Linked DNA regions of Homo sapiens: regions 1, 3 and 4 are each linked to region 2. Evidence: fine-mapped expression QTL. A gene starts in region 2. Each other region holds a variant in brackets. All regions are shown on one strand. Distances are from middle to middle.

The links.
Region 1: its variant is fine-mapped to the expression of NOP14-AS1 in lung (TOPMed, PIP above 0.99). The same link has a PIP of 0.9 or more in testis.
Region 3: its variant is fine-mapped to the expression of NOP14-AS1 in whole blood (TOPMed, PIP 0.93).
Region 4: its variant is fine-mapped to the expression of NOP14-AS1 in whole blood (TOPMed, PIP above 0.99).

The regions. Positions count from the first base shown.
Region 1 is chr4:2,881,276-2,889,379 of GRCh38, reverse strand. ADD1 (adducin 1) reads right to left here. Exons shown (of 16, transcript NM_001354761.2): 3 at 7,320-7,482; 4 at 4,714-4,865. Among named protein-coding and RNA genes, the nearest start is that of ADD1, 41 kb to the right of the region's middle. The variant C/G (reference allele first, on the strand shown) is at 3,548.
Region 2 is chr4:2,931,953-2,940,056 of GRCh38, reverse strand. It overlaps NOP14-AS1 (NOP14 antisense RNA 1), which reads right to left and starts at 4,511. Exons shown (of 4, transcript NR_015453.2): 1 at 1,915-4,511; 2 at 1,265-1,364. SLC75A1 (solute carrier family 75 member 1) reads left to right here and starts at 5,232. Exons shown (of 13, transcript NM_001146069.2): 1 at 5,232-5,288; 2 at 6,113-6,304; 3 at 6,394-6,490; 4 at 6,848-6,951; 5 at 7,299-7,457; 6 at 7,545-7,706; 7 at 7,904-8,012. The coding sequence starts at 6,134. NOP14 (NOP14 nucleolar protein) reads left to right here. Exons shown (of 18, transcript NM_001291978.2): 16 at 412-530; 17 at 714-869; 18 at 1,127-2,121. The coding sequence ends at 1,226. RefSeq lists enhancers at 2,263-2,682, 3,153-3,392, 3,195-4,394, 5,652-6,519, 6,612-6,741 and 2 more and silencers at 4,783-4,892, 5,053-5,362, 5,592-5,811.
Region 3 is chr4:2,855,272-2,863,375 of GRCh38, reverse strand. All of the region lies in intron 1 of ADD1 (adducin 1), which reads right to left. Among named protein-coding and RNA genes, the nearest start is that of ADD1, 15 kb to the right of the region's middle. RefSeq lists enhancers at 1-513, 514-1,226, 1,308-1,387 and a silencer at 3,569-3,638. The variant T/C (reference allele first, on the strand shown) is at 5,022.
Region 4 is chr4:2,997,767-3,005,870 of GRCh38, reverse strand. It overlaps GRK4 (G protein-coupled receptor kinase 4), which reads right to left. Exons shown (of 16, transcript NM_182982.3): 5 at 1,537-1,640. Among named protein-coding and RNA genes, the nearest start is that of GRK4, 38 kb to the right of the region's middle. The variant C/A (reference allele first, on the strand shown) is at 3,108.

The sequences.
Region 1 (8,104 bases), 51 kb after region 2:
TAAAGTATTGCATTTCACATTTAATCTTTAATTCACTGGGATTGCTTTGTGATTATGTATAGTATAGAAGTCTCATATAATTATTTCCACTTGTGACTTTTCTACCCAAGCATCCCAGCAGCCATCATTGCCAAGTCCATCCCCCACCCCGCTGAGCTGCAATGCCGACTACAGCATGTCTGTTTCAATGCATGCAATTTGGCCCTACTGATCCCTCTGCATCTTCCTTTGCCCAAAGGACACTATATTAATTACCACTTTATATTAAGTTTGACATCTGGTAGGAAAAATCTCCTTGCCTAGCTGTTCTTCAGGAGTGTCTTAGCTATTCTTGGCCTTCCGCTCTTCCATCTAAATTTTAGAAGCATGCTGTCAGGTTCCACATTTAAAAAGTATTACACAACCATTTTTGTTAGTCATTTCTCTTTTGTCTCTCTCTCTCTCTCCATATATATATGTACATATTTCATATAGCTGTAAACAGTATATATTTCATATTTTCTCATTTCTGATACCTTTCATTTTTCATATTTCACTTGTTCTACATGATCTTTGTAATTGTTTTTCATAGTATACAACATTTGCTCAAATTGATATTGAATAACTGAGCCATTTCCTATCTACTGCTGAATACTTAAGGACTCTTAAAATTTTTCATTATTGGCTGGGTGCAGTGGCTCACACCTATAACCCTAGCACTTTGGGAGGCTGAGGTGGGCGGATCACTTGAGGTCAGGAGTTCAAAACCAGCCTGGCCAACATGGTGAAACCCCATCTCTAGTAAAAATACAAAAAAATTAGCTGTGTGTGGTGGCAGGTGCCTGTAATCCCTGCTACTTGGGAGGCTGAGGCAGCAGAATTGCCTGAACTCGGAAGGTAGAGGTTGAGTGAGCCGAGATCATGCCACTGCACTCCAGCCTGGGCCACAGAGTGAGACTCTGCCTAAAATAATAATAATAATAATAATAATAATAATAATTTCATTATTACAAATAATGCTGGGCCGGGCACAGTGGCTCACACCTGTAATCCCAGCACTTTGGGAGGCCGAGGCAGGCGGATCGCTTGAGGCCAGGAGTTTGAGCCCAGGCTGGCCAGCATGGTGAAACCCCATCTCTACTAAAAATACTAAAATCAGCTAGTGGCATGGTGGTGCACACCTGCGCATGGTGGCACATGCCTGTTCCTGCTACTTGGGAGGCTGAGGCAGGAGGATCACTTGAACCGAGGCGGCAGAGGTTGCAGTGAGCCGAGATTCCACCACTGCACTCCAGCCTGGGTAACAGAGTGAGACCCTGTCTCAAAAATAATAATAATAATAATAACGCTGTAATTAATAATGTTTCCTTCTTTTACTTATTTTAAGATTTATTTCCAACTGTAAGCTTAACTAACAGATCTATTAATACATACTTTAATTTTAGAGGCTTAAAACATTCAATTCTCTGAATCTAAAGCAAAAAGGAGAAAGTGCAAAATTACAAACATCAAGTAAAAATAGAGAAGGATATTTTGAAGTCAGTTTCCTCTGCAGTTGTCCCTCCCCGTCAGACCAGCCCTGCTCTCCCTGTGTCTCTTCCCACACATGTACTGCCCCTTCTCTGTGTATGAAGAATGAGACTCTCCTGTTGCAGACCAATGCAGTACCCAATTCAGTACCTCCAGAGGAGACCACTATCACGTCCCTGAAGCACAGGGCACTGGTCACAAAGGTGGGTCCAGACCATCACCTCAGAGGCTTAGCATTCTCTGGAATCCAGAATGGAGTTGAACAAGCACCTGCCAGGTTCTGCAGGTGCAAAGCCTTGACAGCATTCCACTGACATCAGAATGGGCAGGCCAAGCCATCAGCTAAGTGCCACCGAGAGAGGAAGCCCAGTCCACTGTGCTAACTGGGCCACCCCGTCTTGTCCCCCTCCCCCCAGCCCCCACAAACACTTCTCCAAATCCAATGCAATCTTAAAGATCTATTTCAGACAATCATCTCCAATCTTCTAACACCTGTTAGCAATTTTAAATCCCTTTAGCAGAAAATCCCTATGACCCCCTTTCAAAGAAAGGGCAGAATGACCTGCTGTCACTTTTTGTTGACACTGTATTTGCTTTTCTGTTAAGCGTCTATACCATACCTAGATAGTAAATAAGAAATGGATGCCATAATAGTAAAACAAAATAAACCAAAACCTTTCTTCCTTAAAGATTCTCTAGTTCTAGTTTATAAGACATAGGAAACATTTTAGGTAACTTGCATTTCTTTTTACTCGGTATTAAGCCCCAAGGAGATAATTTACAGAAAACACTTTTTTAATTTTGCCAATTCTTAAACAATTAAAGGAGGAGAAAACAAGCAATTTAACCAATTCAAACTTATTTAATCAGCATTCAAAATAGGACTAGGCAAACAGCACTTTAAAACCTGCGAAGAAGGTGAAGCTGTTATCACAGTTAGGGTTACGTTTCCAATCACAGCTGTAACATTTTCACCGCACTGATCTTCAGGCAACCACTTAGCACTAATCTCCACCACAGCATTCTGTCAAGTATAATTAGATGACAGAGGCCAGCAATTTCCCTGCAGGCACCAGGAAGGGAGCTGGCATTTGTGCTAGGCTAACTGGACCCACCAATCAAATGTCAAAAGGTCCCAGCGAGCTCTTGTTCACAATTTCACTGAGGTAATTTCAGTTCAGCCGGGGGTTTCATTCAGTTTTTCACCTAAGTTTACTGCATGCCTACTCTTTGCCACGGGTCCTGGGGCCACAGCAGGGACCACAACAGACGCTCTCCCTGTGGAATTTATATTCCTGTGGGCAGAGAGGGACAGCAACAGCTAAACATACAGAATGAATGGGGGTAACTGCTACAGGGGAATAAAGCAGCGATGACATTCTACACAGAGTGACCGTGCCGCACACAGGAGCATGACATGGTAAGGCTTACATTTTGAAAAGTTCATTTAAGCGGAAACAAGAACAGATGGATAGAAGGCAACTCAGTCTCTCTGGCAGAGACCAATATCAAGTCCCAGAGGCACAACACACTAATCACAAGGTGAGCTCCAGACCGTCACCTCAAGAGGCTTAGCATTCCTCTGAGTCCAGAATGGAGCTTAACGAAGCACCGCTGGTTATGAGTCCATGTGCAGAAAAACCCATGTGTGTGTGAGTATGGAGGAAACATTTCAGCAACGTGAACAGCGCACACACTGCTTGCCTCAAGAGAGATGGAAGTATTGGTGGAATTACTTTTTCTTTAGACATCTGCATAAGGTACACTTGATACAAAAAGCAGGCACTGTATTAACAATTTAAAATATCCTTTAAAAGAAATTACATGAAAAAAACAGAAGACTGGAACAAGTTTCAAAACCAAAGGAAGGAAGCAGTTCAAAGGAAGAAGCTATCTCTACAAAAGAGTGAAGGAACAGAAGAACCCTGGCAATGCACTGTGAATCTAACAAGGCAGGAAGGGGCCGGGCAGGGTGGCTCACGCCTGTAATCCCAGCACTTTGGGAGGCCAAGGCGGGCGGATCACAAGGTCAGGAGAT[C/G]GAGACCATCCTGGCTAACACGGTGAAACCCCGTCTCTACTAAAAATACAAAAAAATTAGCCAGGCGTGGTGGCGGGCGCCTGTAGTCCCAGCTACTCGGGAGGCTGAGGCAGGAGAATGGCGTGAACCCGGGAGGCGGAGCTTGCAGTGAGCCGAGATTGCACCACTGCACTCCAGCCTGGGCAACAGAGCAAGTCTCTGTCTCAAAAAAAAAAAAGAAGGCAGGAAGGGTGGAATTCCAAGCCAGGTGAGCAAAGTCTGGCCACAGGCAGAAGGCAAGACATTATAACAGGTGGTCAAGAGTACAGAATGGCTACAAATGTCAGTAAGGGTACCCATTTTTTCTGTGACATGATGAGGTCATTTGGTGGAAGAAGGAGGTCAGGAGTCTCAAAGATAGTAGAGAAGGCTTAAATATTAGTAAGGTTGTAAGAGAGATGAGTTATGGTTGCCAGGCTAAGTCATTGGCCCATTTGAGATTTGGGTTCTGAATCTATGGAGAAAGGTAATGGGCTCTGGTGGGAGGACTTCCACAGCAGGATTTCGCTACTCAGAAGCTGGGAGGGAGAGTACAGGATTGGCAGAGTATTGCTGAAATGAGGGACTATGAAATACAAGATGGACAAAATAGGGAGTGAAGAATAGGCTAATGGATTGGGATGAAGAAGTGACTGTCCACAAGGGAAGGACTCATGTTGTCCACTGACACAACCACAGTTAGAACAGCGCTTGGTCCAGAGAAAGCAGATACCCAGAATGAAGGAAAAGAGATCCTAATAATGTTGAAAAATAGTTAAAACTAGAGTAGCTGAAGAAATAAGTTTGAGAGACGGAAGGCTTTGGTCAGACTAAGAAAGAAAACATCATCATTCTTAGGTTTTTAAGCATAAAAATAATTTTAGAAACTGCATATAATCTGGTAAACACTTAGTTGTTTTATTAGGTTAGCACGCAAGAAAGAAATTTTCAAGAACTGCTGTTCCTGTAACTTTTAACCCAAACTGGCTGATTCTCAGGTTATTACACTCTGTAGTCAGGAATCAGAAGAGGTATTCCAAGACTTACTGAAGCTCAGCCTGCTTCCCTCTTCTCCTAAATGGAAAGAGGTGGTGCCAGACACAAAATATTTCATTTATCGTTCAGTTACTAGCCCATTTAATACTCACTGTGATATGATTGTAGATAAGCTGAGACCACCCAAAGAGATCTGCTAGTCTATAAAACGCTGCCAATTTACACCGTAATAACTTCTCTCCTTTGTCATACGCAATAGAATCAGATCCTCTAAGATCGTTCACAGGAGTCACCATACCAAGACCTGAAATAAAGAAAAACAAAACTCAGCCAGGTGCAGTGGTATACGCCTGTAGTCCTAGTTACTCAGAAGGCTAAGGCAGGAGGATCACTTGAAGCCATGAGTTTGAGGCTGTAGTGCTTATGATAGCAGCTGTGAATAGCCAAGGCAACAAAGCGAGACTTACCAAAAAGCCTCAAATATTAACATTTCTTATCAAATGTAAATCAAATACTAATGGTTCTGAGATATTTATCTTCCACATTAGACAATAAAGTCTTGAAAACTTCAAAGACAATTTCATAATGACTGTTTTCCAATACTTACACAATTAAGTTAGAAATCAATAACAAAAAGATAGCCAAATTTGTGGCGTGCAGTAAAGCAAGCTTAAAAGGAAATTTACAGCATTAAACGTATACATTAGAGAAGAAAAGTGTTTTTAAGGCTTTCTGATTAAAGCAAAAGTTGAATCTCTGAGAAGTTTAAAAATAAAATACAAATAATAAAATAAGATAAACCTCTAGCCAGACTTAACAAAAGAAAGGAGATAGAAACAACCAATATGGGCTGGGCGCGGTGGCTCACGCCTGTAATCCCAGCACTTTGGGAGGCCGAGGCGGGAGGATCACAAGGTCAGGAGATCGAGACCATCCTGGCTAACAAGGTGAAACCCTGTCTATACCAAAAATACAAAAAATTAGCCAGACGTGGTGGTGGGCGCCTATACTCCCAGCTACTTGGGAGGCTGAGGCAGGAGAATGGCGTGAACCCAGGAGGCGGAGCTTACAGTGAGCCAAGATCACGCCACTGCACTGCAGCCCAGGCGACAGAGCAAGACTCCATCTCAAAAAAAAAAAGAAAAGAGAAAAATTAGCCAGGCATGGAAGGCATGGAGGATCCCTTAAGCCTAGGAGTTCAAGGTTGTAGTGAGCTGTGATCGTGCCACTGTACTCCAGCATGGGTGAAAGAGCAAGAACTTATCTCTAAATAAATAAATACACAAAACAAACAAACAAACAAAAAAACATAATTCACCATAACAAACTAAAGAAGAAAGACTAAGGGATCATTTTAACAGAAAGAAAAGAAGCATTTCACAAAGTTCAACATCCATTCAGAAGGAAAGTTCTCAACAAATCCGGATAATAACTGCAATGATGTGAAACACACTGACTATGTTTAAATCATAAATTCAAATAATACTAAAAAAAAAAAAAACTAATTGTTCATCACTGAAGGATGATTGGAAACCAACTTATTATTTCGGAAAGGGATCCTGCCTTTCCTACACAAACTGTATCACCAGGTAACCAAAAGAACTGAAGGGAAGTTTCTCCTGACAGAACATTCTTGCTAATTAATACAGACGAAATGGGCCAGGTGTGGTGGCTCATGTTCGTAATCCCAGCACTTAGGGAGGCTGAGGCGAGTGGATCACTTGTGGTCAGGAGTTTGAGACCAGCATGGCCAACATGGCGAAATCCGTCTCTACTAAAAATAACAAAAATTAGCCAGGTGTGGTGGTGTGTGCCTGTAATCTCAGCTATTCAGGAGGCTGAGGCAGGAGAACAGCTTGAACCTGGGAGGTGGTAGTTTGCAGGGAGCTGAGATCATGCCACTGCACTCCAGCCTGGGAGACAGAGCAAGACGCCGTCTCAAAAACAACAACAACAAAAAAAAACGGAATCCACATGAAAACTTTCCTAGTGGTGGCCATGTGATTTCAGGATGGAGGTTTGAGCTATGGATTAAATGTGACTCTTAATATTCTGTAGACATTAATTACAATATATATCAGATCTGTTGAATGCTATTCAACTTCTAAGAATACCACAGAGCAGACAGGTAAATAGCAAATGTCAGCAGATCTAACAGAAACCAGTACCTTATTTCGGGCAATCAGATTTGACTATCCAACCAGACCCATCAGAGACTAATCCAAGGTACAATATGCAGTGGCTCAGATTAGTTGATGCTTTGTCATGTTAACATTTGCAAACTCAATTGCCATGGCAAAGCTGCATTCTTGCACAGCTGACCATTCTTTGCTCACATTCACCCATCCAGTACTTTTCCTCTGGCTTTTCTTTTAGAATTTCTCTTTCTCACTAGTTGGGACACAGCAGTGAAGAATGCTAGGTAAGAAATGCTGGCCAGGCAAAACTGATGTGCTACTCCACAGCATTATTTCTATTAGTTTATTTTAATCTACATAGGGGCTGGGAAGACACATAAAAAGTCATCTGCCTCGGAAATAAAGTCTCACTGGCTAAGAAAAGAGGAGTCTGCAACATTCAAGATGATTTCAGAATTCCAGCCTATCTTTTACTATGACTAACGAAAACACATTAATTTTCAAAATACTCAACTCTGTTATGTTATACAGTTAAATGCCCACTTATTTCACATGAGCAATCTTCAGGAAATTTTACCTGAAAACTACAGAACATATATTAAAAATCAGGAACTACTCACTCATGTTTAAGGCAGCCATCCCTCCTTGCGGAGCTGCTGGGTAGACATTTGGTACATTCGTGGTCATAAAATCTGCAATCTGCTGTAATGCCAATAGGCCTGTGGGGTTCTTCCCCTTCTTAAATTGCTCCTGTATCATTGATTCCAATTCTTCACAGAAAGCCTAATAAAAAATATTAAAACACTGAGATACCATTTATTTTCTGTTCCTTGGGCAGGGGGTCAGAAGTAGCTATCACATAGACCAATTTTTGTTTTCATCCAGTGCTGGAAAGGCAAACGGATATTCTCACACATTACTGCTGAGAATATAAACTGGTACATTCTTTTCTAGAAAGTAATTTAATACAATAAAAGCTTAAAACTCTGAACAGGAATTCTACTCTTAGGAATCTATTTTAAGGAAACATTCAAGGAAGTGCTCAAAGACTGATTCATTTGTATGTTCATTCCAGTATTATTGATAAAAGGGAAAAACATCCTACGTTTCAATCAACAGAGGACTGATCAAATACACTGGGAATTCTACGCATGCATTCAACATGAAAAGCTAAAAAAACTTAAATGGCATAAAATTGCTCTTGATATATGTTTGAGTGACAATGTTATCAAGCAGTATAACCAGTCCTTATTACAGCAAATACATACCTAAACATAGAAAAAGATTAAAAGTAAATACATTGGCTGGGCACAGTGGCTCATGCCTGGAATCCCAGCACTTTAGGAGGCGAAGGCAGGTGGATCACCTGAGGTCAGGAGTTCGAGACCAGCCTGGCCAACATGGT
Region 2 (8,104 bases):
GGTTCTCCTGTGAGCCTTCTCACGAAGCAAGTGGCTCACGGCCTTTCGTGCCAAGTTTGTCTGGGAAAGAGGGGTTCTGTTGACGTTTCTGGCTGTGAGGAGCACAGGCTATGGTGACCTCCAACTCCCCAAGTCCCCTCCTTTCAGAGAGTGCTCTCAGGGGCCAGCCCACGGCCCTCCCTCTTCAAGAAGACAGTGGCTTTACTTCGTTCCGGCTGTGCCAGGACTTGAGCAGCCACAGCCTTGGCTTACCCCCCCGCCCACCGGTAGGCGCACAGCAAGGGCACCATCCTGCTGCAGGGAGCTCGCAGCACTGTCCTCACGCTGCCTTGACACCACAGAACCCGTGCGTGGAGCTCAGGGCACGCAGCAGGTGAGTCATCGCAGAGTCGGGGATTTCGTGTTTTTCAGGAGCTGTGTCAGAGCACACTGACCGAAATGGAAAGCCAGAAGCAGCTCTGCCGGCCGCTGACCTGTGAGAAGAGCAAGCCTGTCCCACTGAAGCTTTTCACACCCCGGCTGGTCAAAGTGTGGGTGCTGGCAGCATCTCCCTGGGAGGCCAGGGCTGTGGGCTCAGTGGGAGCTGACGGGGGGCGTCTGCCAGTTCTGCAGTTGAGCAGATGACTACGGAGTGAAGCCACACTCCCAAGCAGGCTCTGGCTGAGAGGTGGGGACAGACTCTTGCTTCCTTAACAGTGGCTTTCTGGTTGTAGCCTCGAGTTTGGAAGAAAACAAGGCAGTAGTAAGGAGGAACAGGAAAGGAAGAGGCTGATCCACAAACACAAGCGTGAATTTAAAGGGGCCGTTCGAGAAATCCGCAAGGACAATCAGTTCCTGGCGAGGATGCAACTCTCAGAAATCATGGAACGGTGAGGGGGACGTGTGTGTGCGACACGATTGTGGTGTCACTCAGCTTTGGTGCTGTGTGGCCCTGGGCAGAGCACCGGGCACCTGGCATCCCACAGCCTTGGCTCTGGCTGGGGGTTGGAGCCAGGCAGGTTCACTTCCCCCTGTTTGAACTGAACGTGGCCACGGTGGCTAATGTGGTTCTGATGTGGGAGAGAGAGGGCAAGATGCTCTCCAAGAACTAATCCAAAAATGGGCATTTGCCTTTTGTTTCTTTTAGGGATGCGGAAAGAAAGCGGAAAGTAAAGCAGCTTTTTAACAGCCTGGCTACACAGGAAGGCGAATGGAAGGCTCTGAAGAGGAAAAAGTTCAAAAAATAAATTACATTTTATAAATAAGGCAAGGAACTGGACATTACCTCACATCTGCAATTCCAACCCTCTGGGAGGCCAAGGCAGGAAGATTGCTTCAGCCCAGGAGTTCGAGACCAGCCTGGGCAACACAGGAAGACCCCGTCTCTACCAAAAAAACATAAAAATTAGCCAAGTGTGGTGGCACGCACCTGTAGTCCCAACTACTCGGGAGGCTGAAGCAGGAGGACTGCTTGAGCTGAGTCCAAGGTTACAGTGAGCCGTGATTGAGCCACTGCACTCCAGCCTCGGCCACAGTGCAAGACTGTGTCGCTTAAAAAAAAATTTTTTTTTTTGAGACGGAGTTTTGCTCTTGTTGCCCAGGCTGGAGTGCAATGGCACAACCTCCACCTCCTGGGTTCAAGCGATTCTCCTGCCTCAGCCTCCCGAGTAGCTGGGATTACAGACATGTGCCACCACGCCCAGCTAATTTTGTATTTTTAGTAGAGACGGGGTTTCTCCATGTTGGTCAGGCTGGTCTCGAATTCCCGACCTCAGGTAATCCACCTGCCTTGGCCCCCCAATTATAGGTGTGAGCCACAGCACCCAGCCAAAAAAGTAATTTTTTTTAGAGTAATAATGCTATAATGTTGGTGTGATTCCAACCTCCAGCTCCCCCCACCCGCTGCCTGCGGTTTTGTTTCTGTTAAAACGTCACCTGATGAAATAGAATGAATCCTGAAATGCACCTCTGGGATCGGGAATGGTCTGTGTGTTATCAGCTGCGACTGGTTCACTGCGTCTGGACAAGCCTCATGGGGACTGGGGATTCTGGCCAGTGTAATTTCTGTCAACCACGGACGTTTGCCTTCATGTGTAGAATTTACTGTTGTTATGCAAATTATATTTTCAATTATAAATGAAACAAGTTTGCAGATATTTTAGAAATCAGAGAAGGGAAACATCACCCACAGTCCCTCTGCTGGAACAGCCACAGTTGGCCTTGTCCTACTTACGTCCTTCAGTGGATGCTTCTGGGTGCTGGGGTTCTCCATTCAGGACACTGCACTCTCGGAGGTGGGAGGAGACTGGGTTGCGTCTGTGCCGACCTGGGATGCAGTTTCAGGTCAGAATCAGAAGATGTGCAAGTTACGCATGACACAGCTTTTTAAAGTGCTTTTCCCCTGCACTAATCAAGAGGGAGGTCAGCCCTCAGGTGTGCTGGACCCGGGAGGGACTGTGAGCTGTAAGAAGTAACGAGCCCCTTGAACTTCACAAGCTGGCCAGGGAGCCATATCCCGAATGCCACTGCCACTTCCTCGTGGTGCAAGGCTTGTTGGGACCTGCCACCTTGCTGAGGGAGGTGCTGAAGTAGGTGGTTTCCCTGTTCCAATGCGGTATGCGGTCTTGCAGGCCGAGGCATTCCCCAGGGGATGACGGAGCCCCCGCTGGGCTACAAGCCAGGGCAAACACTGAACTTGTGTCCTTAGCCGGCATCCCAGGAAAGAAGGCCGGGGTCAAGTTCACACCTCATGAGATCACAGTGACCAGCCCTGCCCAGGCTGCCCTGGTACGTGCCTGAAGCATCGCGGAGGTCACATCTAGCCACGGTGACCGTGGTGAGATGTAAGGATTAACCAGACTACGACTGGGGAGGTGAGGAAGGTGACAAGGACCCAGTTCCAGCTTCTAACGGGGTGTGGGATCTTTGAGCAAGGAAGAAGATGCTAGGGAGAATGAGTCTGGCTTTGTTCTTGTTGGGAGGTGTTCAAGCCATGGCTGGACCAGAGCATGAGCCATCCTCAGTGTGAGAGGCAGTTACTGCCGCGGTTGGGCTGCCTGGTAGGCCTGGAGCTCAAAATGAGTCAGTCTCTCTCTGGAAAGCGCAAGACAGAGACAGCGCTGGTGGCAGCTGGGCTGAAGCCAGCAGCTTGGAGATGAGGCTCAGGCCCTGACGGGGGAAATCTTACCCAGCCTCCCCAGATGGCTCAGAGACAGGTCTGGCAGGTGCACGGATCCACAAATCTAGAAGAGTCTGGGGTTGTCACATCCACCAACTAGGCTGGCTGTCTATATACACTTTGTCACTGTGTAGGCCCAGGATTTCACCCATCTACAAATTTTCTCTGCCACACGGCTACTGCCACTTTAATTCACCAAGCCAAGCCTTTGCACTCAGGACCCTGGCCCAACCCTCTTTGGCCAAGCAAAGAGGAAACGAGAACAGGACAGAAAAAAAAGTGGGACCGGACCAGGCACCTGGCTGTCCATTGAGGCCTTGCTATGCGATCCAGGACGGAAGGTGCCGGCAGCAAGCTCATACACTCTAGCTGCGTGTCATGTCATTGAAGAGGGCGCGTGATCCAGCTGGAAGGGTGGATAAAAGTGTAACTGCCCAGTGGGTTCACCTTCCCTGTTACCTAGACAGCCAATTTATCAAGAAAGGGCATTTGCAACAGAGAAAAGGTAATTCACGCAGAGCTAGCTGTGTGGGAGACTGGAGTTTTATTATTACTCGGTCTCCCTGAGCATCTGGGGTTTGGAGTTTTTAAAGATAAGCTGGTGGGTGGGGGGCAGCCAGTGAGTCAGAAGTACCCATTGGTCAGGTCAGAGATGAAATCACAGGGAGTCGAAGCTGTTTTCGCACTGAGTCAGTTCCTGGGTGCCACAACATCAGATGAGCCTGGGTGGTGCCAGGTGACCCACCAAGTGCTGATCTTAGGCTTTACGATGGTGATGTTATCGCCAGGAGCAGTTTGGGGAGGGTCAGAATCCTGTAGCCTCCCGCTGCGTGACTCTTCAACCGTAGTTTCTAATCTTGTGGCTAATCTGTTGGTCCCACAAAAGCAGGCTAATCCCCAGGAAAGGTTTCCTTTGGGAAAGGGCTGTTATCATCTTTGTTTTAAACTAAGTTCCTCCCACAGTTCAACCTGCGTGCAGCAGTAAACAAGGAGGGCATGGAGGTTAGAAGCAAAATGGAGCTGGTTATCTCACTGTCGGCAAATTTTGCAATGGCAGTTTCATAGAGATGCCTGTCCTCTGGGAAAAAAGCTAATAACAGGTTGTCTTTTTGGCTGCAGGTGGAAAACTGCATCTATTAGGAAGAGGTGGGGCTTTGTTCTTACCCACAATTGGAAGTTCTCTATGGAGTAAAGGCGGTATGTGTGCCACCTGATTCCTTTCCCCATGTGTATCTGGTTAGGGTCGGCCACGTGAGATCCGCAAGCATTTTAGAAGGTGGGAGGGGAGGTGGGAGCTGGCTACAGGCCAGGCGTTGGCGTGGTTCCGTGAGTGTGCTCCAGCCAGGCCCAAAGCTTCTCCTGCCCAGAGGGACCGTTTCCTCCAGCGTGGGTCGGGTGCTTCTGCGCCCGGAAAGAGCGCCAGCTCCTCCTTCGGGTGACCCAGGGAGCGGGGCTGCAGGCAAAGGCGCAGGCGGCCAAAAAGGTGCCAACCGGGTCCTGTGGCTTTCAGTTGTCTCTGCCCACCCAATTCACACCATCTTTCCCCCTCAGCCGCCTGTCCTGGGACTTCAGGCTCAGCACCAAACGCAGCAAAAGTAGGTGCACAGAGAGCGGGGTCAGCTCACGCAGCCCGAGCAGAATGGCTGTGCTGCCGCCCCAGGCCCGCGGCCACCGCTGTGTGTGTGGCAGGAGTCAGCCCCCCAGCGTGGGGCCCCGAAGCCCGCGGTCCTTCCACGGGGAGGGCCAGGCCCGCAGGGCGCAGACGATGGGGGACAGGCTGCGCCAGCGCTCGCCTGAGGCCCCGCACACAAACCTCAGGCCCATGGGTCCGCTCCGCGGGGCAGGCGTCGTGGGCCCAAGGAGGCCAGGCCAGGAGTCTCGGCCTCGGGGTTACGCGGCGGCGGGCAGCTCTTCCGCTCCGCTCAGGGTGCTGCTAACCCACAGCCAAGCAGCGACCCGCAGGACCGGCGAGAACCCCGCCACTGACTCCGGCCGGAAGAGAACGTGCAGAGATGTACGTCACTTCCGGGGCGTGGCGTGGCCGGGCGTGGCCGTCCCGCCCCTGGCGGCGTGCCTGGTGCCCTGTTCCGCGTCTGTGCGACCGTCCGTCCCGAGCGCGCAGCCGCGGCAGGTGCGGGGCGGGACCGGGGGCGCCCGGGGTGGGGGGCGTAGGGGGCGCTCGGGTTGGGGGTGGGACAGGGGACGCGCGGGGTGGGGGAGGAGACGGGACCCGGGGTACGCGGGGGTGGGGCGGGTGAGAGGTGCGCAGGGTAGGGGAGTAGGGGGCGCGCGGGGTGTGGGGCTGGACCAGGGGCGCGCGGGGTGGGGGCGGTGGGAGGCGCGCGGCGTGGGGGTTAGAGGGCGCGCAGGGTGGGGGACGGGACCGGGGACGCGCAGGGTGGGGGGCGGGACCGGGGGCGCGCGGGGTGGGGGCGGGACCGGGACGCACGCGGGATGGCGGAGTGGGAGGCGCGCGGGGTTGGGGGTGCTCCTGCGTCCGGTGTGCACCCCATGGCCCCCGCCAGGGAGACCGAGTCCGGGCCAGGGGCCGGAATCGCGGGGCGCGGGCCGGGGCTGGGGTTGGGGTTGGGATCGGGATCGGGATCGGGATCGGGATCCGGGTTCCCCGCGGCTTCAAGTTTTCTCTCGCTGTTACGAGGGCGTGGGAGGCGCGGCCGTGGGGTGGGGTGGGGCCAGGTCCGCGATGTGCTCACCCTGGTCTCTCAGGACCGTTGCCTTTGCGGCTATTTTTTGTGCAATCCCCGAAGCCTGCGTTTCCTGCTGCCTGGGTTCGGGGCGGGGGCATCGCGCAGGCCAGAACGGCCCCTGCGTCCGTAGGCCAGAGCCCCTGCCATCAGCCCCTTTAGGGTGCTCGCCGGCTGTCGGGTGTGGGGGTATGCCAGGCCCCGGAGGACTCGGCTTCCCCGCTAACCCGACCCGCCGCACCCCACCCAGGCCAGGTCAGAGCAGCCCACCATGGGATGGGGAGGGGGTGGAGGCTGCACCCCGCGCCCACCCATCCACCAGCAGCCGCCGGAGCGCCGCGTGGTCACCGTTGTCTTTCTCGGCCTCCTGCTGGACCTCCTGGCCTTCACGCTGCTGCTGCCCCTGCTGCCCGGGCTGTTGGAGAGCCACGGCCGTGCCCACGTGAGTCCTTGCCCTGCGGCCCACAGTGCCCCCTGCCCCCCAGGCCCATCAGACCTCCCCAGCCCTTATCGTGATTCCTCATCCCCTAGGACCCCCTCTATGGCTCCTGGCAGGGCGGGGTGGACTGGTTTGCCACCGCCATCGGGATGCCAGTGGAGAAGAGGTACAACAGTGTCCTGTTCGGAGGTATGGCTGGCTCTGTGCCCTTGGCGGGCTCTCTACGGTCCTATGTTTGGTGGACGTGGTCCAGCCCAGGCCCCTCCCCAATTCTCGGTCCTTGCCTTCCCACTCCCTGGGCTGGCATGTCTGGTGCCCTTGCCCACATGTCCTGGCTTCTGGGCATGATCCCTTGCCTCCGCGTGTCACGTTCAGATCCTTCCTCATCTCTCCATTGGGGCCCCCTCGGCTCAAGGGCCATGGCCTGTGAGTGTAGGGCCCAGCATGACTGGACCCTCAGGACGGGGCTGGACATTGGCCTTGAGGGCCCCAAGACCACAGCTCATGGTGCCAGGCAGCCCCATGATGGTGACATCTGTCTCTCAGGTCTCATTGGCTCGGCATTCTCTGTCCTGCAGTTTCTGTGTGCGCCACTCACTGGGGCCACCTCTGACTGCTTGGGGAGGCGCCCGGTGATGCTGCTGTGCCTGGTATGTTCCTGGGCCTGGGTGCCCATGGGGAAGCCTCCTCCCACCCAGCCAGTAGCCCCATGGGGTTAGGTGGGGAGAGGGAGGTGGCTGTGGGCCCCTCATGGCCACTGGTTGGCCCTCATCGCATCCTGGAGGGGGTTCTCGGGGGACCAGTGGCTCCTGTTCCAGAGCCAGGCTTTCAAGGAGCTGCTCCTGGCCCCTAGGAAGGCACTGAGAACGCAAGTGGCCCTCAGATGCTTCGAAATAGGGCAGGGTTGAGGGGTGTTGTCTGGGTTGCCAAGCCCTACTCTGAGCCACTCCTGGCCTTAAGCGACCGCCCCTGCCTCTTGGCCCCTGCCCCTGGGCAGATGGGTGTGGCCACCTCATATGCAGTCTGGGCCACCTCTCGGAGCTTTGCGGCCTTCCTGGCCTCCAGGCTGATTGGGGGCATCAGCAAAGGGAACGTCAGCCTCTCCACGGCCATCGTTGCTGACCTGGGCTCGCCTCTGGCCCGCAGTCAAGGCATGGTAAGTGCACAGGCTGGGCCTTTGGGGTCCTGGTGGTGACTTCTGGGCCTGGGTCTCCCTGTGCAGCTCGGGTGGTCTTTTCCCTAGGCGGTCATTGGGGTGGCCTTCTCACTGGGCTTCACCCTGGGCCCTATGCTCGGAGCCTCCCTGCCCCTGGAAATGGCACCCTGGTTTGCCCTGCTCTTCGCAGCCTCCGACCTGCTGTTCATCTTCTGCTTCCTGCCAGAGACGCTGCCCCTGGAGAAACGGGTAGGGCTGTGGTCTGGGACCCACAGGCCTAGGGGCTGGAGGCTTGATTCCATAGCGATGTAAAGTGCCCCTGTGTGCCAGCCCCAGATGCCAGGGAGGCTGGGCCGCTCTCTTGGTGTTGGGACCCTTGAGGCCACAGTCCGTGGGTTGCCAGGCCAGCAGCCGCTCCTGCAGGCTCTCCAATGCCATCCCCACAGGCGCCCTCTATCGCCCTGGGGTTCCGTGATGCGGCTGATCTGCTCAGCCCCCTGGCCCTGCTGCGCTTCTCGGCTGTCGCTCGTGGCCAGGACCCACCCTCTGGAGACAGTAAGGACTCGACCAACCCAAGCGTGGAGCCTGCTCTCCCCTGGGCTTCCCCGGGCGGCGCCCTTCCCTGCTGTGGTCGCCTTCTCAGCACG
Region 3 (8,104 bases), 77 kb after region 2:
CTAAAAATTCCAAGTAAAGCCTTGTACAGTGGCTCACAACTGTAATCCCAGCACCTTGGGAGGCAGAGGTGGGCAGATTGCTTCAGCCCAGAGTTTGAGACTAGCCTGGGCAATATGGCAGAACCCTAGCTCTACCAAAAAAAAAAAAAAAAAAAATTAAAAATTAGCTGGGCGTGGTGGCATGCACCTGTAGTCCCAGCTACTTAGGAGTCTGAGGTGAGAGGATCACTTGAGCCTAGTAGAGGCTGTAGTGGGCCATGACCATCCCACTGCACTCTAGCCTGGGTGACAGAGTGAAGCTCTGTCTCAAAAAAATTCAATAGGCATGACAGTACTGAGGTAGAGGGGAGAAGCCACACTCCAGAAGTCTCTATAGTTGGGTCATGGAGAGAAGTGGCAGATCCCATGCAACTTTTCAAATGCAACTGGAGCAGAGTCAAAGGATGACAATCATTTTCATGGAGTCAGCACTCAGTCACCAAATATCTACCAAGCACTAACTGTGAGGCTGCTATAGACCAGGCATTGCTCAGCAATCCACATTCTCAGGGGACATCAATGAACAAAACAAAGATTTCTTACATTCCTGCAGGGAAGCCAGGCAATAAACATGATAAATAAGTAAATCACACAGTCTGTTAGAAGGCGACAAGTGCTATGGGTAGGGAACTGGGAGTCCAGGGGGTGGGGAGGTGAGTCACATCATTAAGTAGGAAGAGCAAAGGAAAGCTCCCAGAGAAGGGGACAGCTAAGGAAGGACTCACAGACAAACAGGTGGTGAGAGCACTAGGCCAGGTGGCCATATATCCAGAAAGGCACTCCAGGCAGAGAGAAAGCTAGAGCCAAAACTCCAGGTAAGAACTGGCTTTTGTTTGGGAATGGGAGAGGGGAATAAGGCTGTCTGTTTATCATCTCCTTTCTTTAAGCATTGAGACAGTTCAGTTACATTTTGGTTAATAAGCAAAGATAAAAAGAGGCTAAGAAAAGAGCATCCTGTTTAATTTTAAATAGAAAACTAATGTCAGGGGTAGGATTTGAATCTACAGCTCCTAAAACCCTGGTTTGAACCTCTGAGACCCATTCAGTGAAGCTAGTTTCAATTCCTTCTGAGCGCATTCACTTTACCAGCTCTCAGCAGCATCTGGCACAGCTGCTCCCACTTTCAGGAGTCACTGTCCTCTTCCAGTTTTCAGACATCAGTTTCTGGTTTTCCTCCAACCTCTCCAGCTACTGCTGTGAGTCTCCCTTGCTGTTCTACCTCTTCTATCCAACTTCTACCTGCTGGGCTGCCCCAGTACCCTGAGCTGCTTGTCTTCCCTAGCTATACCATTGCCTTAAGCCAGGGGTGTCCAATCTTTTGGCTTCCCTGGGCCACACTGGAAGAAGAATTGTCTCGGGCCACACATAAAATACACTAACACTAATGATAGTTGATGAACTTAAATCTCATAATGTTTTAAGAAAGTTTACGAATTTGTGTTAGGCTGCATTCAAAGCTGTCCTGGGCCACATGTGGGCAACAGGTTGGACAAGTTTGCCTTAAAGGATCACACTGATCCAGGCCCATCCTTGGCTCTAAATACCACCTCCACCAGTGGTTCTCAGCCCTCGTCATACATTAGAGCCACCTAGATAGATTTAAAACAAACCATGGCTAGACCCAAACCCAGACCCACAGAATCTGAATCTCTAGGAATGGAGCTTGGGCATGAGCATTTTTAAAGGTGAGTCAAATGTGCACTCACAGTTGAGAACCACTGATTTATATACACTAATGGGCCCCAAATTTTTATCTCTAGCCCTAAACTCTTCCCTGAGGCCAAACTTGTATGTCCAAATGCCAACAAAACATCTGTTTGAATATTTAAAGTCTACTCAAACCTAACTTATTCAAAATAAGACTCTTAATCTCTAGTCTTGTCTCTCTGTATCTAAACTCATAAACTCTTAATAATTCATTCTCCATAAAGGTATTAATATATTTAAATGTCGCACCCTACTTAATTTGGGAGTGGTAGCTCATGCCTGTAATCCCAGCACTTTGGGAGGCCAAGGACCACTTGGGGCCAAGAGTTCAATGGCTTCCCACAGTCCCTAGAATAAAATCTGCACTCTTGACCCCAATATGCAGGGGCCTTCCCATTTTGGCCCCCAGCCCCCACGCTCCCTTGCTCACCATTTCCCAGACACACTAGTCTCCCTTCTGTCCTCAAACACTCCCAGCCCCTTCCTGCCTCAGAGTCTTTGTACTTGCTGTCCTCTCTGCCTAGAACAAAGAATTTATTCCAGCTACTTTGAATGCCTTAGTCCTTATCAGTTAGGCTGCAGGTCAAATTTCAACTGGAAATTTTGAAGTTTGCTTCCCTGCCCACCCTATTTAGAATAGTCCCCACTCCCAGCTCTCTCAAATCACCCTGGACTTTTTGTGTTTTCTTACCCTTCAAAGTACTTACCATCACTATCAGGGCACAGACTCTGGAGCTAGACTGCTTGAGTTCAAACTCCAGCTCAGCCACTTACTGACTCTGTAATTTTGGCAAGATTTCTTAACTTCCCTGGTGGAAGTTTCCACATTTGAAATATGAGTTTAACAACAGGTTAATGCATGTAAAATGCTTAGAATAAGTGCCTGACAAATAGGAAGTACTTAAGTGTTAACTCTTAGTATTACTGTCAGAAATAAACTATCTCCCCTAGTATAATAAAACTCCCAAGAGGACAAGAAACTGGTCTGTCTCATTCACTACTGTATTCACAGAGCTGTCACGTAATAGTCTCTCAATTAATACATATGGAAGAACAAATACATTTCCAGATCTAACATTTTGGACTAACAACGCTAATCTAAGTTTTGTTTCTAGAGGCATATGACTAAGAAAAACCTTTGCTTTGCTTCATTCAATCACAACTGACGTCCGACTGAAGAGACCCTTGGAGTACAGCAACAAACTAAAACACTCCAAATTTCACTCACAAGTTCGCCACTCACAAGGAAATTCCAGACTGCAAATGGACAATCTGCATATCAAATTGGGTTTTGTATCTCTGAATTAAGAAGGTCTTATGTTTCCAAAATCACGTCAATTCCCAAAGTTGATAAAGCAAACGTAGCTAGTATGTCTGCCTCTAGATGACTCGATTTGGAGACTAAAGCTCACACAAACAACTCCCAGAGGTAGGACAATAAGAAAAGAAGAAAAGGAGATTTCTAGACCTCAGGGAAGTTATAACTAAGTGAGCATGGTACCTGCTCACTTTATGAAACCCCATAAAGACTGCAGGAAGACTCAGCTAAGTCAGGAAGCACAGGTTGACCAGACACATCAGTATAGAAAACTCTACGTAAGATTTTATAAGGAAGGAAAAAACCAACACTCTATAATCTAATTAAACACGTAAGGAGGGATTAACAGTACTAACCTGAGAATGTTTCTCCTGAAAAAAAAAAAAAATGGAGCAATATCAGGGGAACCATTTAATAATTATAAAACAGTAAGATGGAAAAGTATGTCATTATAAAGTGATCTTATGAATAACGCAGCTGCTGAATGAAATGGCAGCAAACAATGTGTCTAAAGTGGTAACTGCTTGAAGGTTAAGCCTGACACTGGAAAGGAAACCTTACAGTAAAGAAAACCTCCAAAATGGGTGAGGATTAAATAAAAAGTTTCATTTCCTTTTGGCTTACATACTCCGAAAAGGAAGCAGAGGCTATCACTAAAATTTCTCTGTTTTGGTAGATGGGAAATGTCTGCTTTGGTTTTGCTTTTTTGAGACAGGGTCTCACGGTTGCCAAGGCTGGAGTGTAGAAATGTCTACTTTATTTGGCATCTCTCTCAGTATGTGAGCATGAATTTTTTTATATGCTTATTTACATTTAAAATTTCCCATGGCCTATGATTTCCTTTGTACACATATCTGTTGAGATCTTGATGTATTTATTTCTACACATCTGAAAAAAATAGTACAGGTATTGACCCTTTTATCATATTTGTCATTCTCAGACTACTATCTTCTATAATTTTATTTTTCAATAAGAAAATATTTTAACATTTTGCATATTTAGGTTGACAAACCTTTTCCTTTGTGATTTCTTCTGGTTTTAAAAAGAAAGTTATCATTCCTTCCCAGGCACACATCTAATAAAATGTTCCAAGAAAATGTTAAGGCGTTATCTCTGATAAACATTTTATTTTGCTTTTTCTCCACAGTGCCTCTATAATTTTAAACATTTCTTTTTAATCCACCTGGGATTTATTTTGATGAATGGTATGTTTTCCAGCTATCACATCATCAACAATCCCTTCTCCCCACAGACATAGAGGCGCAGGGCCCAATGATGCAGGTTTTGACTTTGTACCAGCAACGCCCTACGATCACTTCATAGGCTTATTGTCTTCTGTACTTCAGTTTCCACATTTGTAATAAAATACACTCGGTGATATGTTCCCAGGTTGTTGGGGCAATTAGAAATAATAAATGTAAAATGTCTAGCACAATGTCTGGCACATAGACGTCCCATAATAGTAAATATGTTTATTATTCTTTGTTTGTTGAGCCATGGTCTCACTACGTGGCCAAGGCTGGTCTCAAACTCCTGGTTTCAAGTGATCCTCTGACCTCAGCTTCCCAAACTGCTAGAAATACAGGCATGAGCCACTGCCTGGCCTTGGGTGTGGTTTTGGAAATGACTGAGTGAAGCAACTAAAGATAAGCCAACCATCTGTTTAACTGAACAAATGTGAGTGAACTTTAATGCACCCTATCCTGTTTATATTTCCAAAATCTGTCTGGTATCACTAGTGCAGAAAAGAATCTGGTTTGGGTGTTTATCAAAATTCCACCAGCCTTGCAATGCTGATTAATAAATGTGCTCAATTCCTATCTATGGTTTATAGTCTAAGGCCAGAGAACCCAGGTTCTGATCCCAGTTCACTAAACCGCGTAACCTTAGGCACATTTCTTCATCTCTGTCTATTTCAGTTTCTTCATCTGTAAAATGAGAATCATTATCTACTTCC[T/C]TGGTTTAAGATTAAACGAGTTAACTTATGTCAAGTGTTTAGCACAAGGTACATAGTAAACAGTAAGTGGTAGCTATCACTATTATTATTAGCAGTAGCAGCAATAGCATCATCTTTAAAGACTGACTGAATCTCTTTAAAAAGGACACCAGAAGAACATTCTGTAATGGACACTAATTAACTGTCTTTCTTGGTATTTGCAGGGGGACACATATCTCCACCACATAGTAGAGTTCCCTCCTAGAGGCTGTTATCACGGCTTCGTATGGTCATTTTTTTAATCCAACTGCCAGACTGCAAGCTTACTGAAGGCAAGAGCTATTACAATGCTTTACTTCCAATATTCCTAACACAATGCTCTGAATGCAGCAGATCTTAAATAAATGCTTATTAAATTACTAAAATAAAAAAAAAGCAATGAGACAGAACCTTAGAAGCATGTATTTTCTGCCCCAGAAGGAACTTTAGAAGTCATTTTACAGATGCTAAAATAGAGTTCCAGAACAAAGTAATGATTTTACCAAAGTCTCGTATACTGGCCATACTGGAGTCAGTTCCCCTGTATCATGGAAAACACACCAACACACCTCACTCACTCCCTGGGCTGTCAAACCGTGCACTTTGGAACCAACCTCACACTGAATACACCTTTTGTACATTTTAAACTAGTGCCCAATCACTATTTCCATTTGGAGACCTCAACTAAGGCAAATACTTGAAAATCCCTACCACTCAGATTTTCTTTTTGAGACAGGGTCTCATTCTGTCACCCAGGCTGGAGTGCAGTGGCACAATCTCAGCTCACTGCAACCTCCACCTCCTGAGCTCAAGTGATCCTCCCACCTCAGCCTCCTGAGTAGCTCAGACCACAAGTGCACCCCATCATGTCCGGCTAATTTTTGTATTTTATGTAGAGACAGGGTTTCGATTTACCCACACTGGTCTCAAACTCCTGGGCTCAAGCGATCCTCTAACTTCAGCCTCTTGAGTAGCTGGGACTCTGAGACTGCAGGAGCACCACCACACCTGCTAACTTTTAGAATAAAAGAAATTTAAATTGAATTTTTAGGTCAAAAAATGAGTAACAGCTTAGATACAAAGAGGAATTTGCGAATTAAAACACAGCTTTGAAAAAATTGCCCTGGCCGGGTGTGGTGGCTCACGTCTGTAATCTTAGCACTTTGGGAGGCTGAGACAGGCAGATCATGAGGTCAGGAGTTCAAGACCAGCCTGGCTAACATGGTGAAACCCTGTCTCTACTAAAAATACAAAAAATTAGCCAGGCGTGGTGGCATGAGCCTGTAGTCCCAGCTACTCAGGAGGCTGAGGCAGAAGAATTGCTTGAACCCAGGAGGTGGAGGTTGCAGTGAGCTGAGATGCCGCCACTGCACTCCAGCCTGGGCGACAAAGCAAGACTCCATCTCAAAAAAAATAAAAAATAAAAAATAACAGAATAAGAACGTTGGCTGGGTGTGGTGGCTCACACCTGTAATTCCAGCACTTCGGGAGGCCAAGGTGGGCAGATCACCTGAGGTCAGGAGTTTGAGACCAGCCTGGCCAACGTGGTGAAACCCCATCTCTATTAAAAATACAAAAATTAGCCAGATATGGTGGTGCACGCCTGTAGTCCCAGCTACTTGGAGGCTGAGACGAGAGAATCACTTGAACCCAGGAGGTGGAGGTTGCAGTGAGCAGAGTTCATGCCACAGCACTCCAGCCTGAGCAACGGAGCAAGACCCCGTCTCAGGAAAAAAAAAAAAAAAAAAAAAACTCTAGTAACCATTTACTTGAGTAACATGCAGAAATAATAAATAGGGAACAGTAAATATTCCAAAAGAAAATGGCTGACAACTTCCCAGAGCTGAAAGACATGAATCTACAAAAACCAAGCAAAATAAATAAAGATAAATCCATACCTTACACACATTGTAATGAATATGCAGAATAGCCAAGGCCAAAATAAAGAAAAGAAAATTCTAACAGAAGCCAGAAGAAAAAAAGACAGATCACCTACAAGGGAATAACAAACCGACTACTGCCAAACTTGCCAACAGAAACAACAAAAGTAGAGAGCAGTAGGATAACTCCAAAATGCTGAAAAGAAATAACTGTCAATCTGGATTTCTATATCAAGCAAAATTATCTTTCAAGAACTTAGGTGAAGGTTGGGAGTGGTGGCTCATGCCTGTAATCCTAGCACTTTGGAAGGCTGAGGTGGGAGGATACTTGAGCCCAGGAATTCAAGACCAGCCTGGGCAACATAATAGTAAGACTCGTCTCTATTTTTTTTTTTTTTTTTAAAAAAGAACTTGTGTGAAATAATTTCCGAGTAGCTGGGACTACAGGCATGCACCACCATGCCCAATGGTGGTGCACGCCTGTAATCCTAGCACTCTGGGAGACTGAGGCAGGCAGATCTCGAGTCCCAGAGTTTGAGACTAGCCTACACAACATGGCAAAACCCTGTTTCAACAAAAAAATACAAAAAATAGCTGGTCATGGCGGCATGTGCCTGTAGTCCCAGCTACTTGGGGGCTGAAGTGGGAGGATCACTAAAGCTCAGGAGGTCAAGGCTGCAGTGAGCTGTGATCGCGCCACTGCACTCCAGCCTGGGCAACAGAGTGAGAACCTGTCTCAAAAAAAAGAAAAGAAAAAAACTTGTGCACTCCAGTCTGAGTGTCAGAGCAAGACTGTGTCTCTTTAAAAAGAAAAAAAAAAAGTCTGGACTAAAACACTGAACAACAGCAGCATGTAACTTGAGAGTTGAATAATTGGAATTAAAGAACTTTCATGCCTTTGCTGTATCTAGGAGGGCGACAGAATATTAGTTTTAGACTTCGTTAAATATGCATAGCAAAATTTCAAGGGTAATCACTAAAAGAATATTAAGAGTATGTCATTTCCAAACCAAAAGATGGAAGAATATAAAGAAAAACAAACAACTCCCAGTTGTTTAAAAAGGCAAGCATGGGGAGAAAAGACAAACAGAATACAAAACCTAAGATGATAAAGAAAGTACAAATTTATCTGAATCATAACATAAATGTACTAAATTATGCCAGTTAAAAGACAGAAATTACAGG
Region 4 (8,104 bases), 66 kb before region 2:
CTCAAGAGAAAGCCAGATAGAGAGAGAAAGCCTTGTTTTTTATTTTTATTTATTTATTTATTTATGAGACAGAGTCTCGCTGTGTTGCCCAGGCTGGAGTACAGTGGAGTACAGGGGAGGCTCATTGCAGCCTCCACCTCCCAGGTTCAAGTGATTCTCATGCCTCAGCCTCCTGAGTAGCTGGGATTACAGGCGCACACCCCCAGGCCTGGCTAATTTTTGCATTTTTTTGGAGAGATGGGGTTTCTCTATGTGGGCCAGGCTGGTCTTGAACTCCTGGCCTCAAGCGATCTGCCCGCCTCGGCCTCCCAAAGTGCTGGGATTACCGGCGTGAGCCACCGCGCCCGGCCTGTGTGTTATTTTAGAGGCAGCCGCATCATTAAAGCATCAGGGTCCAGCCCCAGCCCCACTATGCTCGGACTGCACTGGCTCAGGTGCGCCACTCCCTGCCACATGTGAGCTGCAACGGCCTCGCCGGCTCATCTCCTGGACCCCATCTTCCCTCTCTTTAACCTCTAAGTTGCACCCAGAGCGATCTTTTTAAACACAATGCATATGTCATCTGCTTGCTCTCAGAGCAAAGAATAAACTTTCTCATGGCTCCCTGGGCCTCCGTTTCCTCCGCTGTGACATGAGTGACTGTCTGCATGCATACACAAGGCACTGCAGATTTTGGGCCTGATCACCTCAGAAACTGTTCTTTCATCCCGCATATGTAAAGAAACTGAATTTAGCCAAAGTGCTTTACCTCGGAATTCTCCTTGGAAATGCCCTGAAAAAAGATGTTTTTGGTGAGTACCTAGGTCTGAAAAAAATCTTTTTGTCCTAGACACAAGCAGAGCAGAGAGGGCCTGGAGTCACCACAGGGATGCTAGGATACTGGTGCTAAACGATGGGACCCCCTTCAGTGTGCCTCGTGTGTACATGGAATTATTACTCTTCATTCACCTCTTTCTAGAGGAAGTAATCATTTTAATGTGTAAAGTACAGTTGACCCTTGAACAATGCGGGTTGAGACGCCAGGAGCCACTTATGTATGTATTTTCTTCCGCCTCTGCCACCCCTGAGACAGCAAGACCAGCTCCTCCTCTTCCTCCTTCTCCTCAGCCTCCTCAACGTGCAGATGACGAGGATGAAGACCTTTATGATGATCCATTTCCACTTTATGAATAGGAATTATATTTTCTCTTCCTTATGATTTTCTTAGTAACACTTTATTTTTTCTAGCATACTTTATTGTAAGAGTATAGCATATAATACATATACAAAATATGTGTTCATCTGCTGTTTATGTTATCAGTAAGGCTTCTGGTCAACAGTAGGCTAATGGTAGTTAAGCTTTTGGGGGAGTCAAAAGTTACACACAGATTTTCAACTGCGCAGAAGGTTGGGTGGTGTCAGCGTCCCTAATGCCCATGTTGTTCAAGGGTCAACTACACTCTAGGAACTTGTCTTATGCAGAGAAACCTCCTGAAAGCTGTCTGTTTTGGGGTTAGTCATAGATAATATATGCAGGGCTCAGCATGAACCACTTACCTAGTACATTCCTCAAAGGCTTTTTTGGAAGGGTTCTCCTCCTTCAGTCCCAATCTACATTCTGTCACAACATCTGGAGGTATTTCTGGTAAAGGGGCTGCCAACTTAATACAGTACAAACCAAATACATAACCATTAGTGATTTCATAACTTACTAGTGAACAGAACCTAATGCTTATTGTAAAAAAATGAAACACAAAGTGTATAAAATGAAAGTCAAAGTGCCACCTGGACCCTCCACCCCGTCCCACTCTCCAGAGTTCTGCTGTTGTCTGCCTTTTCAGATCTTCTCCGATGCATATCAAAACACACACAGGGCCAGATGCAACGGCACACGCCTGTAATCCCAGCACTTTGGGAGGCCGAGGTGGGTGGATCACCTGAAGTCAGGAGTTTGAGACCAGCCAACATGGTGAAACTCCGTCTCTACTAAAAATACAAAACTATTAGCCAGGCGTGGTAGGTAGCTACTTGGGAGGCTGAGGCAGGAGAATCACTTGAACCTGGGAGGCGGAGGTTGCAGTGAGCTGAGATCACGCCACTGCACTCCAGCCTGGGCAACAAGAGTGAAACTCCGTCTCCAAACCAAACCAAACCAAACAAAAAAACACACACACAGAATGGAAAGCAGGGTCTCAAACAGGTATCTGCACACCCATGTTCATTGCAGCATAATTCACCATAGCAAAAAACAACCCAGGTGTCTGTGGATGAATGGATAAATAAAATGCAGTATATATACACAGTGGAATATTATTCAGCCTTTTAAAAAAAGGAAATTCTGAAATACGCTACAACTTGGATAAACCTTTTGGACATTATGTTAAATGAAATAAGCCAGTCACGGCCGGCATGGTGACTCACCCCTGTAATCCCAGCACTTTGGGAGGCAGAGTTATGTGGATCAGTTGAGGTCAGGAGTTCAAGACCAGCCTGGCCAACATGGTGAAACCCTGTCTTTACTAAAAAATACAAAAATTAGCCAGGCGTGGTGGCAGGCACCTGTAATCCTAGCTACTCAGGAGGCTGAGGCACGAGAATTGCTTGAAGCTGAGAGGCGGAGGTTGCAGTGAGCTGAGATTGTGCCACTGCCCTCCAGCCTGGACGACAGAGCGAAACTCCATCTCAAAAATAAATAAAGAAGCCAGTCACAAAGTGACAAATCCTGTATGATTCCACTTATATATGGTCCCTAGAGTAGTCAAATTCATAGAGACATAAAGTAGAATGGTGGTTGCCAGGCGCTTGGAGAGAACTGGGAATTGTTGAATGGACGCAGAATTTCAGTTCTGTGAGATGAAAAGGTCGGTTCTGGAGATGGGCTGCAGAACAGGGTGAATATATTTAACACTACTGAAGTGCACACTTACAAATGCTGACGTTGGTAACCTTCATGTTACGTGTTTTTTTATCACAATTAAAATTAAAAATCAAACACACACACCTCTTCAGATAGTTTCTTTTTCCTCATGCAAATGGGAAAAATATATGTTCAGTTTTGTGGTTTTTTTGGAGACAGAAAATCTCGGCTCATTGCAGCCTCCACCTCCTGGGCTCATGCAATCCTCCTA[C/A]CTCCACCTCCCAAGTAGCAGGGACTATGGGCGCATGCCACCACACCTGGCTAGTTTTTTTGAGATGGAGTCTTGTTCTGTGGTCCAGGCTGGAGTGCAGTGCATGATCTTGGGTCACTGCAAGTCCCGCCGCCCAGGTTCAAGCGATTCTCCTGCCTCAGCCGCCCAAGCAGCTGGGATTACAGGTGCCCGCCACCACGCCTGGCTAATTTCGAACTCCTGACCTCAAGAGATCCTTTGGAAGTCTTCAGCCTTCCAAAATGCTGGGATTCCAGGTGTTAGCCACTGTGCCCAGCTGCACCTAGCTGATCTTTGTATTGTTTGTAGAGACAGTGTTTCACCACGTTGCCCAGGCTGGTCTTGAACTCCTGAGCTCAACTGATCTGCCCACCTTGGCCTACAAAAGTGCTAGGATTACAGGCATGTGCCACTGTGCCCAGCCTGGGTCCAGTGTTTAAAGTATGTGCTGACGTCTATAGAGCTACCCCACTTTCTTGAGTGACTGCACGGTCTCCCGGTGTATGAGTTTATCTGCCCCCAGTTACATCCTAGTTGCCAGTTTTCCCACGCAAACAGCACCACCGTGAACGTCTCTATACATGTGTATTTCTATAGGATAGATTCCTAAACACAGAGTTACCAGCTCAAAAAGATGCAAGCATTTTAAACTTCATATTTATTGTGAAACTGCCCTCCAAAGAGGCTCTGCCACTCTGTATTCCCACTCACAGTGTTCCAGGTGCCCAGGCCCTGCTCTCCTTAACCCTCATCCAGAGAATTCTGGAAAAAGGAAACACATGACAAAACCACTGTCCAGATTCAATGAAAAAATACCCAAGTCATGCTCAATTGTCCACCTAATTTGTAATTAGAAACAAGAAATGCATTCCAGACTGATTTCTGACTGTGATAGGGCCAAGCGACCAGAGGAAATCTGTGTTTATAAATCAGTTATTTCCTAACATAAGTTGAAAGATAGTAAACAATAAGAAAACTCACATTTTAAAAAATCAACAATATTATCACAATTAATCATGATTAGTAGCTGCCATTTAAATTATCTAATACATTTGAGGCATTTCAATAACTATGGTCTCGGGCGGGCGTGGTGGCTCACGCCTGTAATCCCACTACTTTGGGAGGCGAAGGAGGGTGGATCACCTGAGGTCAGGAGTTCGAGACCAGCCTGACAAACATGGTGAAACCTGTCTCTACTAAAAATACAAAAATTTAGCTGGGCATGGTGGCAGGCACCTGTAATCTCAGCTACTCAGGAGGCTGAGGCAGGGGAATCACTTGAACCCAGGAGGCAGAGGTTGCAGTGAGCCAAGATCACGCCACTCCACTCCAGCCTGGGCTACAAGAGCGAAACTCCATCTCAAAAAAAAAAAAAATATATATATATATATGTGTGTGTGTGTGTGTGTGTGTGTGTGTATATGTACTCACACACACATATATACATATATATGTATGTGTATACATACATACATACACACATATATATACATATATGTATATATATACACATACACATATATACATATATATACACATACACATATATACATATATATACACATACACATATATACATATATATACACATACACATATATACCTATATATATACACATACACATATATACATATATATACACACACACACACACATATATATATATATATAGTCTCATTTAGCCCTACAACCACCACCCTGATGGATGAGGAGAGACTTGGGAAGTCCCTCTCCAGTGCACCTGCATCACCAAGGGGAGAGCCAAGACTGAAACACACACACCCTGCTGGACTCTCCAGTCCTTTCTTTCTATGCAGCAAGGCTGTCATAAGAATAAGATCGGTCCATTCATTTTCCTATTTAAGAAAAGAAGTTTGGGCCAGGCGCCGTGGCTCACGCCTGTAATCCCAGCACTTTGGGAGGCTGAGGTGGGCAGATCACGAGGTCAAGAGATCGAGACCATCCTGGCCAACATGGTGAAACCCCATCTCTACTAAAAATACAAAAAAAAAATTAGCTGGGCATAATGGCACGTGCCTGTAGTCCCAGCTACTCGGGAGACTGAGGTAGAAGTATCATTTGAACCCAGGAGGCAAAGGTTGCAGTGAGCCGAGATTGTGCCACTGCACTCCAGCCTGGTGACAGAGCAAGACTGTTTCAAAAAAAAAAAGAAAAGAAAAGAAAAGAAAAGAAAAGAAAAAAGAAAGAAAAGAAGTTTGTTCATTCACTCATTTGCTCCACAAATATGCATTGTTCCAGGCACTGGACACAGCAGAAAACAAGACAAAATATTCTCAGAAGACAAAGACAATATTTTAACAGTCATTTCCCCTCCAAAGTCTCAATTTTTCTGAAACTAAATAGCAGGTTGATTCTATCAAGACCGTTTAATGATTAACACCAAATAGTGTTCCCATTTTCTATATCATAGAAAATTTTTATATTAATAGTTATTTATTCTCACACAAAGGAAAAGCAGTGTTTCTAATATCCATGAGAGAGAGGGAGGTAAGCTAAGGTGACCTGAAGTATGGCAAGGTAAGGTACAGAACTACCAGCCTGATGCAGAACTGAGACTTCTGGGGCTTTACATTAAGGATCAATCATTGTTTTTCAGAATAAGTAGTTACCAGGGCAAATTTACCAAATGACTTAGTGCCTTGCTTTTTAAAATTTTAGGCAGAGGAAATTCTAATAGGAAAGACCACTGGTGGAGAGGGAAGGGAGGGTGGATTTTGCAGAAATATGCTTCTTTTTCTGTGTTGAAAATTACATTTACTTTCCTATTTTAAAAAATTGGGTCATCTTTTTATTGTTGCATTGTAAGAGTTATTTATATATTCTGGATACTAGACCCTTACCAGTATTTGATTTACAAATCCTTTTCCCCATTCTGTTGGTTATGTTTTCACTTCTTGATAGTGTTCTTTGAAGCATAAAGTTTTAAATTTTGATGAAGTTCAGTTTATCTATTTTTTCTTTGTTGCTTGTGCTTTAGGTGTCATATCTAAGAAGTCACTGCCTAATTTCAAGGTATTGAAGAGTTACACCTACACTTTCCTCTAAGAGTTGTATAGTTTTAGCTCTTATATTTAGGCCTTTGATGGATTTGGCATTAATGTTTTGTTTATGGAATGAGGTAGGGCTTCCGTGTGATTCTCTGCATGTGGCTATCCAGTTGTTCCAGTACCATCTATTGAAAAGACTATTCTTTCTCCCAGTTGAATTGTCTTGGCATCCTTGTGATAAGGCAATTAATTGACTGTTAATGTGTTATCGTTTGGATGTGTGCCCCAAAGTTCATGTGTTGGTAGCTTAATTCCCAATGCAACAGTGTTGAGAGGTGGGACCTTTAAAAAGGTGATAAGATCATGAGGACTCTGCCCCTCAGGAATGGATTCATGCTGCAATCTCAGGACTGGTTTTGTTATTGTTGCGGCATTGCGGCAGGTTCCTGATAAAAAGCTAAGCTCAGCCCCTTCCACCACTCCCCACCCAGGCGTGTGCATACCCTCGTATTCTTCTGCATGGATGATGCAGCAAGAGGGCTCTCACTAGATTGGACTCCTTGACCTTGGACTTCCGGCTTTCAGAACTGTAAGAAATAAATCTCTGTTCTTTATAAATTACCCAATCTCAGGTATTCTGTTAGAGCAGCACTAAATGGACTAAGACAAAATGCATGAATTTGTTTCTGCACTCTCGATTCCATACCATTGACTGCTGTATGTCTACCATCATGCCAGGACCATACTGTCTTGATTACTGTAGCTTTGTACTAAGTTTTGAAATTGAGGAGTGCGAGTCCTCCAACTACATTCTTTTTAAAGAATGTTATAGTCCACGTCCCTTGACTATCCATATGAGTTCTAAGATTAGCTTGCTTGTTAATTTCTGCAAAAAAAAAAATGGTAGTTAGACTTGTGATAGGGATTATATTGAATCTATAGATCAATTTGGGGAGTACTGCCATCTTAACAATATTAAGTCTTCTGATCCACGAACAGGAGATGTCTTTCCATTTCTTGAGATCTTCTTTAATTTTTTTCAGTGCTTTCTAGTTTTCAGAGTATAAGTGTTACACTTATGTTGTTACGTTCATTCTTAAGTATTTTATTCTTTTTTGATACTATACAAAGGGAATTGCTTTCTTAATTTCTTTTTTTTTGGATTTTAATTGCTAATATATAGGAATACAATTAAATTTTGTATAGTGACTTAGTATCTTGCAGCCTTACCAGACTCACTTATTAGCTCCAACAGTCTTTTTCTTTATGTGTGTATGTGTGAATTTCTTAGAATTTTCTATATCCAAGATTATGTCATTTGCAAATAGAGTTTTACTTCTTCCTTTACAATCTAAATACCTTTTCTTTTCTTTTTTTTTTTAAACAGAGTCTTGCTGTGTTGCCCAGGCTGGAGTGCAATGGCACAACCTTGGCTCACTGCAACCTCCTCCTCCCGGGTTCAAGCAATTCTCCTGCCTCAGCTTCCAAGTAGCTGGGATTACAGGTGCCTACCACCATGCCCAGCTAATTTTTGTATTTTTAGTACAGACGGGGGTTTCACCATGTTGCCCAGGCTGGTCTCAAACTCCTGACCTCAGGTGATCCACGCGCTTTGGCCTCCCAAAGTGCTGGATCACAGGTATGAGCCACTGCGCCTGGTGAATACCTTTTATTTCTTTTTCTTGCCTAATTGCCCTGTCTAGAACCTCCAGTACAATGGAACTTACAGTTGACCCTAGTTGAACAGAAGTGGTGAGGGTGCACAATCTTGTCTTGTTCCTAATCTTAAAGGAAAGCATATAGTCTTTTACTTTTTTTTTTTTTTTTTGGAGATGGAGTCTCACTCTGTCATCCAGGCTGGAGTGCAGTGGTGCAATCTCAGCTCACTGTAACCTCTGCCTCCCAGGTTCAAGTGATTCTCTTGCCTCAGCCTCCTCAGTAGCTGGGACTATAGGCGTGCACCACCATGG